2 linked regions of the Homo sapiens genome follow. The protein of the gene in region 2 purifies or fractionates together with the protein of the main gene of each other region. This does not show direct contact. Each region holds a gene or a part of one and is shown on either strand. Other genes may lie near its edges.

What was found. The genes of interacting proteins can lie anywhere in the genome.
Region 1: the proteins of CLRN3 (region 2) and CCDC43 purify together in Homo sapiens (affinity purification with mass spectrometry; one large-scale study listed by BioGRID and IntAct). This does not show direct contact.

Annotation. Positions count from the first base shown.
Region 1 is NC_000017.11:44,682,349-44,686,776, forward strand, and holds part of CCDC43 (coiled-coil domain-containing protein 43), read right to left. Parts: intron 1,612-4,428; coding exon 1,524-1,611; intron 1-1,523.
Region 2 is NC_000010.11:127,881,808-127,887,163, reverse strand, and holds part of CLRN3 (clarin-3), read left to right. Parts: intron 1-3,288; coding exon 3,289-3,468; intron 3,469-5,356.

The sequences.
Region 1 (4,428 bases), on a different chromosome or scaffold from region 2:
GCCCTGATTTTACTTGTTTTATATACTGAAGTTCTGCTGCCTTAAAAAAAAAAAAAAAAAAAAAAGGTTGAAAAGCACTGCATTAGAACCACAGAAAACTAAGCCTCTGAACACTCAACTTCCCCATGGCATCCCAAAAACCTAAGCAGGAATCTAAAATCAACTTAAGCTGGTCCTGTTTATGTTTCTGATTATGCCAGGTGGAATTCTTAGATTAAGAATATTTTGGCCGGGCGCGGTGGCTCACGCCTGTAATCCCAACACTTTGGGAGGCCAAGGCAGGTGGATCATGAGGTCAGGAGATCGAGACCATCCCGGCTAACACAGTGAAACCCCGTCTCTACTAAAAATACAAAAATTAGCCAGGCGTGGTGACGGGCGCCTGTAGTCCCAGCTACTCGGGAGGCTGAGGCAGGAGAATGGCGTGAACCCGGGGAGGCGGAGCTTGCAGTGAGCCGAGATCACGCCACTGCACTCCAGCCTGGGCGACAGAGCAAAACTCCGTCTCAAAAAAAAAAATATTTTGCCATGCTATAAAATAAAATCAACTAGTAAGTTCTCCAGTCTCAAGAAAAGGAAACAATGGTGTAAAATAGTAGTTCTCACACTTGGTTGCACATTAGAATCACCTACAGGAGCTTTTAAAAAATACAAATGCCTGGGCCCCAACCCAGGTACATTAAGTGATTCTAATATACAGCCAAAACTGAGAACCAACAGTGTACAGAGTTCAGAATCTTTCCAAATTTGGCTTTTATGATTTGAGTTTTCTGTACCTAATTTACCATCCTAGTGGTGGGTATATTCGCCCATTTCTCTTCCATTTTAAAGGGTAAAGTGTTTAGCTGAATAAAGCCAAATACCAACCATAATTTGTGTTATGAAATGACAACATGAGGCAGGGTGCTGTAGCTCATGCCTGTAATCCCAGCACTTTGGGAGGCTGAGGTGGGCAGATCACATGAGGTCAGGAGTTCGAGACCAGCCTGGTCAACATGGTGAAATCCCCATCTCTACTAAAAACACAAAAATTAGCCAGGCATGGTGACATGAGCCTGTAGTCCCAGCTATTCACGAGGCTGAGGCACAAGAATCACTTGAATCTGGGAGGCAGCAGTTACAGTGAGCTGAGATTACGCCACTGCACTCCAGCCTGGGTGACACAGCAAGACTCTGTCTCAAAAAAAAAAGACAACATGAAAAAAGTAGGAAGTGGTAAAAATATAGTTGACTCCATACCTGCAATGCAAATCTACAAGAAGCAGTGGAAAGATGATGAAAAAGAAAAAGTAAAAAACCACAATGAAGAAAACTGTGGTCAGTCGAAATGGAAAAATGCAAAAAAAGAAAAGGAAGCCAATGTTCAGTAAAGGTAACACAGGCTGTTGGGTGTTTGCCAGTGTACACTATCTTCGGGAAAATGAGCATCCAAGGGGAAAATGAAAAGATCTCTTCCTAACAGCTATACAGTCAAGGCTGCTGGAAAAGGCTCAGGAAGTTAAACACAGAAACTCTGACTCTACCTTCTTTTTTCACTTTGGTGACAACATTCTGAGTTTCTGACCATCGTTCCACAATCTCCTTGCAGATATTAAGGAGGGAATCTTCTTCCTAGTTGGAAAAGCAGACCAATTAATTTCCTGAGGGAGCCCTCAAAAACAATAGTAACCTCAAAAAAGCCTATGAAGAAAGCACAGCTCTCCATGCTGTGAAATTATGGAAGGGTCTGGGAGCCACAATAGAGTATGTTTCTTTTCTGAGGCTCTGGACACAGAATTGATCCTGCTTGTGTGTCCCAGAACCCACACCTCCTACATCAAGAACAGCCACTCCATCCTGATAAGCTCCAAGGGAAGATTCATACCAACTCAGGGCAGCCTTCCTCATTCTCTCTTAAAATATTTATTTTATTTTTAATTGACAAATAATAACTGTATATATTATATATATGTAGGGTACCCTGTGATGTCTCAATATATGTTCACATTGTAGAATAATTAAATCAAGCTAATTAACAAATCTATCACCTCACATATTTCTCATTTTTTTGGTGATGAAAACATTTAAGGCTGGGTGCAGTGGCTTACGCCTGTAATCCCAGCACTTTGGGAGGCTGAGGAGGGCGGATCACTTGAAGCTGGGAGTTCAAGACCAGCCTGGCCAACGTGCTGAAACCCCATCTCTACTAAAAATACAAAAATTAGCCGGGTGTGGTGGCACATGCCTGTAATCACAGTACTCGGGAGGCTGAGGCACAAGAATAACTTGAACCCAGGAGGCAGAGGTTGTGGTGAGCCGAGATCACGCCACTGCACTCCAGCCTGGGAGAGGGGAGAGAAATTGTCTCAAAAAAAAAAAAGAAAGAAAGAAAGAAAACATTTAAAATGTACTCTTTTAGTAATTTTGAAGTATACAATGCATTATTATTTATTTATTATTATTACTTTTTAGAGACAGGGTCTCACTCTGTTACCCAGGCTGGAGTGTAGTGGTGCAATCACAGCTCACTGTAACCTCAAACTCCTGGGCTCAAGCAATCCTCCTGCCTCAGCCTCTCAAGTAGCTAGGACTGCAAGCATGTACTACCACACCTGGCTAATTGAGTTTGTTGTTTTTTTTAAAAGATGGGGTCTCACTATCTTACCCAGGCTGGTCTCCAGCTCCTGACCTCAAGCAATCCTCCCATCTTGGCCCCCTAAAGTGTTGGGATTACAGGCCTGGGCCACCACATCCAGCCGATTATTACTTATTATAGTCACCATTCTATGCAACAGATCACTAAAGTATATTCCTTCTGTCTAACTGCAATTTTATACCCTTTGATCAACAATCTTCCCTTTTCCCATCCACCTCCCCCAATTCTTTTGGAGCAAAAACCTGTTCCCTAAGTCAAAACTCCTCTGTGAAATATTCCTTGGCTGACGTATACAATTCAGAACCTTCCCTAAGGTTATCAACTTTCATGCTAGATCATATCCATTAGCTTGCTGACACATAATAAAGAGGAGATACATGACAAAATGGTCTCTTGTCCAACCATCCCGCTGTCCATTTTAGAGAAGCATACATATTCTGCATACCAACCAATCTCCCTCCTCAGCATGATATAACAAAAATCTTGTCTTTAGTGTTAGAGATACTTAAGTTCAAATCCCAGATCTGTGAGGAAGTTTCTTAACTTTCTGATCTTCACATCCTCCCAGGATTTTACTGAGGATAAATGAAAATGTATATAAATGCCTACCCTACTTGTCAAAGAACAAGCATCTAATAAACACGAGCACTTCCCTCCATCTTCATTACGGCTGCATTCCCCACCTTCACGTTCTACCTCTCAGGGCAAGCTGTCAGCATTCACATTTATTAAGCATTTACCATGTGCCAGGCACTGCTCTAAAAGCCTTACATGAGAACTCTCAATTATTAAAATAATGCCATTAAGTACTATTTTACTCTCAATTTATAGAAGAGGAAACCAAAGCACAGAGGTTAATTACTTTGCCCAAGGTCTTACAAGTAATAATGGATTAAACACAATTTGAACCCCAGCAGTTTGGCTTAGAGCCCATGTTCTTTTTTTTTTGAGACGGAGTCTCGCTCTGTTGCCCAGGCTGGAGTGCAGTGGCGCGATCTCGGCTCAATGCAAGCTCTGCCTCCTGGGTTCACGCCATTATCCTGCCTCAGCCTCCCAAGCAGCTGGGACTACAGGCGCCCGCCACCACGCCCAGCTAATTTTTTGTATTTTTAGTAGAGACGGGGTTTCACCATGTTAGCCAGGATGGTTTCGATCTCCTGACCTCGTGATCCGCCTGCCTTGGCCTCCCAAAGTGCTGGGATTACAGGCGTTAGCCACCGCGCCCAGCCGAGCCCATGTTCTTAACCATCTCCCAAAGAAAAGTGGAGAGTCAGAACACAGACTTATTATGTATATCCTTATTTTGTACCCAGCAAAGGATTTCTTCCTCTACCTTGCATCCTTTTAGCTACATGCTAGACACACAGAACTTCCTTGGTCCAGAGTTTCAATAGTTCATGGGTTTCCCCCAACCCCCACCAGCAAGAAAAGCAAAGAAACAGAAAAAGAAAAAAGGATGAGAAAGTGGTACAGCTCTTTTAAAATCCCCCACCAAAAGAAAAAGAATGGCAGGAAAAGGAGCAGCAGAGAGGCAAAAGAGAACGGGAACTCTTAAGAGGACAAAGTGGTTTATTTCCTCAGTCTCCTCATCCAAATCAATGTAGTTCAATCATCCATTCCTTCATTTATTTATACAGAAGGTGCCTGCTATGTTCAAGGCACTAAGAGGAAAGTTTATCCTACTTACAATGCTCCTTTTTCCCTGGCACTTATCACTTTGTAACATACTATATAATTTACTAGTGATGCTTTTCCATGCTAGAATGTAACCGCATGAGGGCAGGAATTTCTAT
Region 2 (5,356 bases):
TTCCTTCTCTCCTCCGGTGTCCCCCTCTATTACTTTCAAAACAAGTGTGTGCTAAATTGTAGCAATATTAATCCCCCAACGGCTGCACCTCCACAGCGAGCAATAGGCAGAGGCAAGAAATTTCACCTGAGGTCAGGGATGGAAAAAAAGGTCCCAGCCCAGGTGGCCACATCCCACCCACCCAGAAGGCAGGCCCAGCAGGCCCCACCCGTCCCTGCCCAGGCAACAGGCAGTGGCTGGCGTGACCCAGGTCCCGCTAGAGCCCTTCCCTGGGATGCATAGCCAGAGACTATGCTGAGAATTTCACCACGCTCTATGGGTTATTAGCAGAAATTGCAAAATAGTCCAGTCACCATTGAGCACAAGTAGGCTGTACCTGTGCGAGCTGGACTTTGCTCACAGTCCCCAGTTCCACTTGAGGAGCAGGGTGGTGAATTCATCGTCCTCATGCCACTGAGCTGAGGCTTGCCCAGTCTTCTCCTGGTTTGCTCCCTTCTCCCATGGGTTTTCAAGGCACATGCGGCCATGCCAACCGCTGTGAGGCGTATCCACATTGCCCTCCTCCTGCCCTTTTCTCTCTCCTCCCCTTTTCTTTCCTGCACTTTCTCACTCTCCCTTGCAGCCAGAACCCTTGGGTTACCAGTCATTGCTGCTTCTGGGGCTTCTCCCCCTCCCGGTCTAGGAGGCTGCACCCCGAGGCCTGCACCGCTTGGGATGAGGGTCTTCACCACAGAACCCTTTTGCCAGCAGCCCCTGAGGCTGTTTCTCAGGCACCTGATTGCAAGCTGCTGGCCACATCTCCTTCATGCCCACTCTGTTCAATGGGAGGAAACTTTTCTTCCTCATAGAACATTGCTGATTAAAAAGCCAAAAAAGAAAACAATAGTGAACAAATAGAATTAAGAGGTTCAAAAATGGAGTGATGACGTCCTCCTGTCCAAGGGGATTGTCGGGTCTCATTGGGAGCCCCACGTCTATCTGGCTATGTGTGGTGGCCTGTAATCCCAGCACTTTGGGAGGCCAAGGAGGGAGGATCACTCGAGCTTAGGAATTGGAGACCAGCCTGGGCAACATAGTGAGATCCTGTCCCTATGGAACATTTTTTAAAAGGCCGGGCGTGGTGGCTTATGCCTGTAATCCCAGCACTTTGGTAGGCCAAGGCGGGCAGATCACCTGAGGTTGGGAGTTCGAGACCAGCCTGACCAACATGGACAAACCCCATCTCTACTAAAAATACAAAATTAGCCTGGCATGGTGGTGCATGCCTGTAATCCCAGCTACTTGGAAGGCTGAGGAAGGACAATTGCTTGAACCCGGGAGGCGGAGGTTGGGGTGAGCCGAGATCGCACCATTGCGCTCCAGCCTGGGCAACAAGAGTGAAACTCCAACTCAAAAAAAAAAATTTTAAAAATTAGCTGAGCGTGGTCGTGGTGGCACATCCTGTAGTTCCAGCTACTCCGGAGGCTGAGGCAGGAGGATTCTTTGCTTGAACTCGGGAGATCAAGACTGCAGTGAGTGATGATCTTGCCACTGCACTCCAGTCTGGGTGACAGAGCAAGACCCTGTCTCCAAAAACAGAAGAAAAAGAGAGAAAGAGAAATAGAGTCAGAATAAAGTATGTGTAGGAGGCCAGGCTGGCAGGAACTTTGCAGTCACACTCAGCAGAGAATACTCCAGAAATGTGGGCTGTTAATCATGTTGGGATTTATATCCCTCCTCAAATATTTGGAAAGGCTGCCAGGCAGGAAAGGAGCAAGTGAATTTTGTATGATTCCCAAAGGAGAATTAGGACCCCTGGGTTTAAGTCGTGGAGATGCAGATTTGGGCTCAGCATAATGAGGAATTTTTAAATCATTACGGCGATGCAAGGAGGGAAAGGGGAGGGGACTTGGTGACCCCTCCCATGGGTGCCCACAGCACCCTGGGGTCTCCTGCCTCCCATTCTGAATTCTTTGAAACACTCTGGTTCCATTAGGAACTCCTTGACCTTCGACCCGTGGGCATATGCTGAGGGAATACCACCCCTAGGCCCAGAAACCAGAGATCCTACCTGGCCTTTTCGCTTTCTGTTCTTTAAAGCTGCTCCAGATAAAGAGGTGAGGGCTCCAAGGCTCTCTCCCTGGAGACCAGAGAAACCAGAACGGAAACAAAGAGCCTTTCACTTGTTTTTACCCACCTGTTCCCAGTGATGTTGCTGTGGCCTTACTGTGACTCGGAACTCTTCTCCCTAATCCCTTTCTCCCATGTCCTGGTGACTTTCATGGAACATCCTTGTAAACACTATTTCATGTGCTGGCCTCCTCCACAGGGCCTCACACACCCTGTCAGCCCGTGGCTGGGCTGGGCTTACATGTAAGTGCAGCCCTGTGGTGCCTGGGCATTGCATCCTCCACAAAAGAGCCGGTGGAGGAGATGGCTGGTGGCAGTCAGAAGCCTGAGAAAGGCAAAACCAGGAACCCAGGACTGACAGCCAGGGCACCTTTGCTTCATGTTATAAGAGTGTCCTTCCATGCCTGGAGCTCCTCTGCACTTAAGAAATATGCAAATTCATCCAATGCTGTTAGGATTCAGAAGAGTTCTCCTTGGAAAGCAGAGTCAAGGCTCACTCATGGGCGAATTCCCAGCCGCCTCCAGCGTTGGAGCCCTCTGGGCATCTGGTCCTCTCTGGCCCCAGGGAAGTGGAGTCTGAAGTAGGACCCACAACTCGATTTGCACCAACAGAAGTCATTTTCTTATGTCAGCCTTCAGCTTCCACTTTCCTGGTCACCTTTCTTAGGCTTTTCTCTGCTGATGCCACCCCTGACTCATGCAATTACCCCAGATGCCACAGGGCTTGTGGGATTCTCACAGTGCACAGGTTTTCAGGGTGACCTACCCTGTGAGTGCCTCCAAGTGGAAGCCAAGTTAGTGCTCAGAGCAACAGGGGCACTGATGAAACTGGGAAAAGCACCTTGGCAAGGACGGAGCCCGAGCTCAGTAATGGGAAGGCTGTCCAGCCCTGCTGCCGGTATCCAGGAAGGTAAACTCTTTCCTAGGAGACTTCAAAATCAGCATAAATGTCCAGTTATCTGTAGTGTCGCGGTTATACCCATCCAACCACTGATTCAACAACCAGCCTCCAGTGGGGAATGCGGGTCTTGTTCTTGCATGGGTTGGAGGCTCCTGGTATCTCTAACTGACATCCAACAACCAGTAACTCAAGTCACTAAGAGGGTAGGGTGGGGAGGAATGCCAGGCCAGAGCTGGTGTTTGCATTATGTGCTATGCACTCACAAAACATTGTTTTAGTTTTAGAGATACTGAATAATTCTTCCCAAAAAACTCTGCATTCGGTGACTATCCTGTTCCTGGTCCTGAGTTTGATCACGTCGCTGCTGAGCTCTGGGTTTACCTTCTACAACAGCATCAGCAACCCTTACCAGACATTCCTGGGGCCGACGGGGGTGTACACCTGGAACGGGCTCGGTGGTGAGTGGCCCTGTGAGACTCGGTGCTCTGCAGAAAACTGCATCCCGCTTGTCCCCATGTCTCTGCCTCTCACACATGCATGAACATACACAGTCACGTTTACACCAAGGAAACTATGAGGACCTCCCATGAGCTGAGGGCTGGGGTTTATTTTGTCAATCCAAAGTGTTTATGAAGCATCTCTGGAAATAGAATTCTGTTTTAAATGCACTGCTGAGGAGGCTTATAACAAGCCAGGCTTTGCTTTTGAGACTCTAACATAAGAAGTCAAAATGCACAAAAGTCAACAAAATATTGACCGGGCTCCTGCCATGTGCTGAACTCCAAACTAGGCTCTGTGTGGCATGTAGAAGCACACACATGTGCACACACATACACATGCACACGCATGCACACACACATGTGCACACACACACACACACACATGAACACACCAGCACACACTTCCTTCTCTTTCCTCCTCCACATGACAAGAGTCCACTTGGTCTCCACACATGACATCTCTGCATGGTCGTGCCACAGAGCCACAGATAATGGCACATAAGAGAATCTGGGTGCAATACCTTTTTTGTGGGCTACCTGTGAGCCTGGGGTGTTGCTGGGTGGTGTTGCTTGGTTATTTTGTTTGTTTCATGGGTGTGGTGCTGGGAGGATGGAGCCCAGATGGGAAGCGGGTCCCAGCTTTGACTCACAGTCTTCTGGCTTTCACTGGGTTTTTCCAGGGCTCTGCAGCTGCCCATCTGCCCAGAGCAGGGCTGGGGAAGTACCTATTTGCCCTGCCCAGCTGCCTTCAGGGCCTTTTGCTCCCACCAGGCAGTCAGGTTTCTCCTGTTCTTTCCCTCTCCACCATCAAAACTGGACCTTGGGAATGAAGCCTGTCCTAAGGAAATGATTTCTGAGGTGGCTTCATGTAAGCTCCAGGTGACGCATTTTAACACAGGCCTGAAATTTTGAAGCACAGGAAGGAGGCTCTGGATATCAGACATGTCAGGAAGCCTCGGAGGAGGGGCTGAGGGCAGCATCATCCTGTCCCTCCATTGAGTGTCATCCTTACCACGAGGTAGGCGCAGGTGGCTGAAGGAGGCCAGCGTCTCCATGTCATGGAGTAGAGGTGTGCTGAGGAATATGAACAACTGGCTCTCCAGTAGGGAAAAACAAAAAGAGAAAAAAGCCCTGGTGATTGGAATCGTGTAAACACAGCCACATGGCCATTTTCAAACTCCCAATGTGAGATCACTGACGTGGAGTTGAGATGTACAAACTGGCCCCAGCACAGCACAGGTAGGACGGTGAGGGATGCTTTTTAAAATGGAAAAGCATTAAGCCAGGACTACAGGTGGACCAGAGTCACATTACATACTCACACCTCAGCTCTAAGGATTTGGGGTCAGGCTAGTTTAACCACATTCATATATGACTGGCTCTTTCTTTCTGTGCTTTTATTATTTGGGGGTAAAAACAAATAAATCCCCCAATTTAATGGGCAGCCACTATGGACGAGGCACAAAAGTCCTGTAGAATGAATATCACTGTTTCCCTTTCTTATGGCAGAGCTGAGTGTCAGAGGTTAAGGGACTTTGTTACACAATCAGATATACTCACCTGAATGCCAGAGTCCCTTGCCTAAGCTACTTGTATGATGATGGTTCACCCCAGTCAATCAAACCAAGGTAAACCAATTGGTACTTATGGCCAGGGTAAAGAGATAGATTATTTTTACTTTTGCTCATGCAACTAAGAAAGTACGAGAAGCAGTGGCTTCAGACACAGCTCGAGTCAAGGTCTCGGCCTGTGTCGTGAGGACTGTTTCCTGCCATTGCTCCATCTATTGAAATCCTCAGCGTTGACTCCATCATTCATTAATTGGCCAGATCAATCCTCTTGAAGA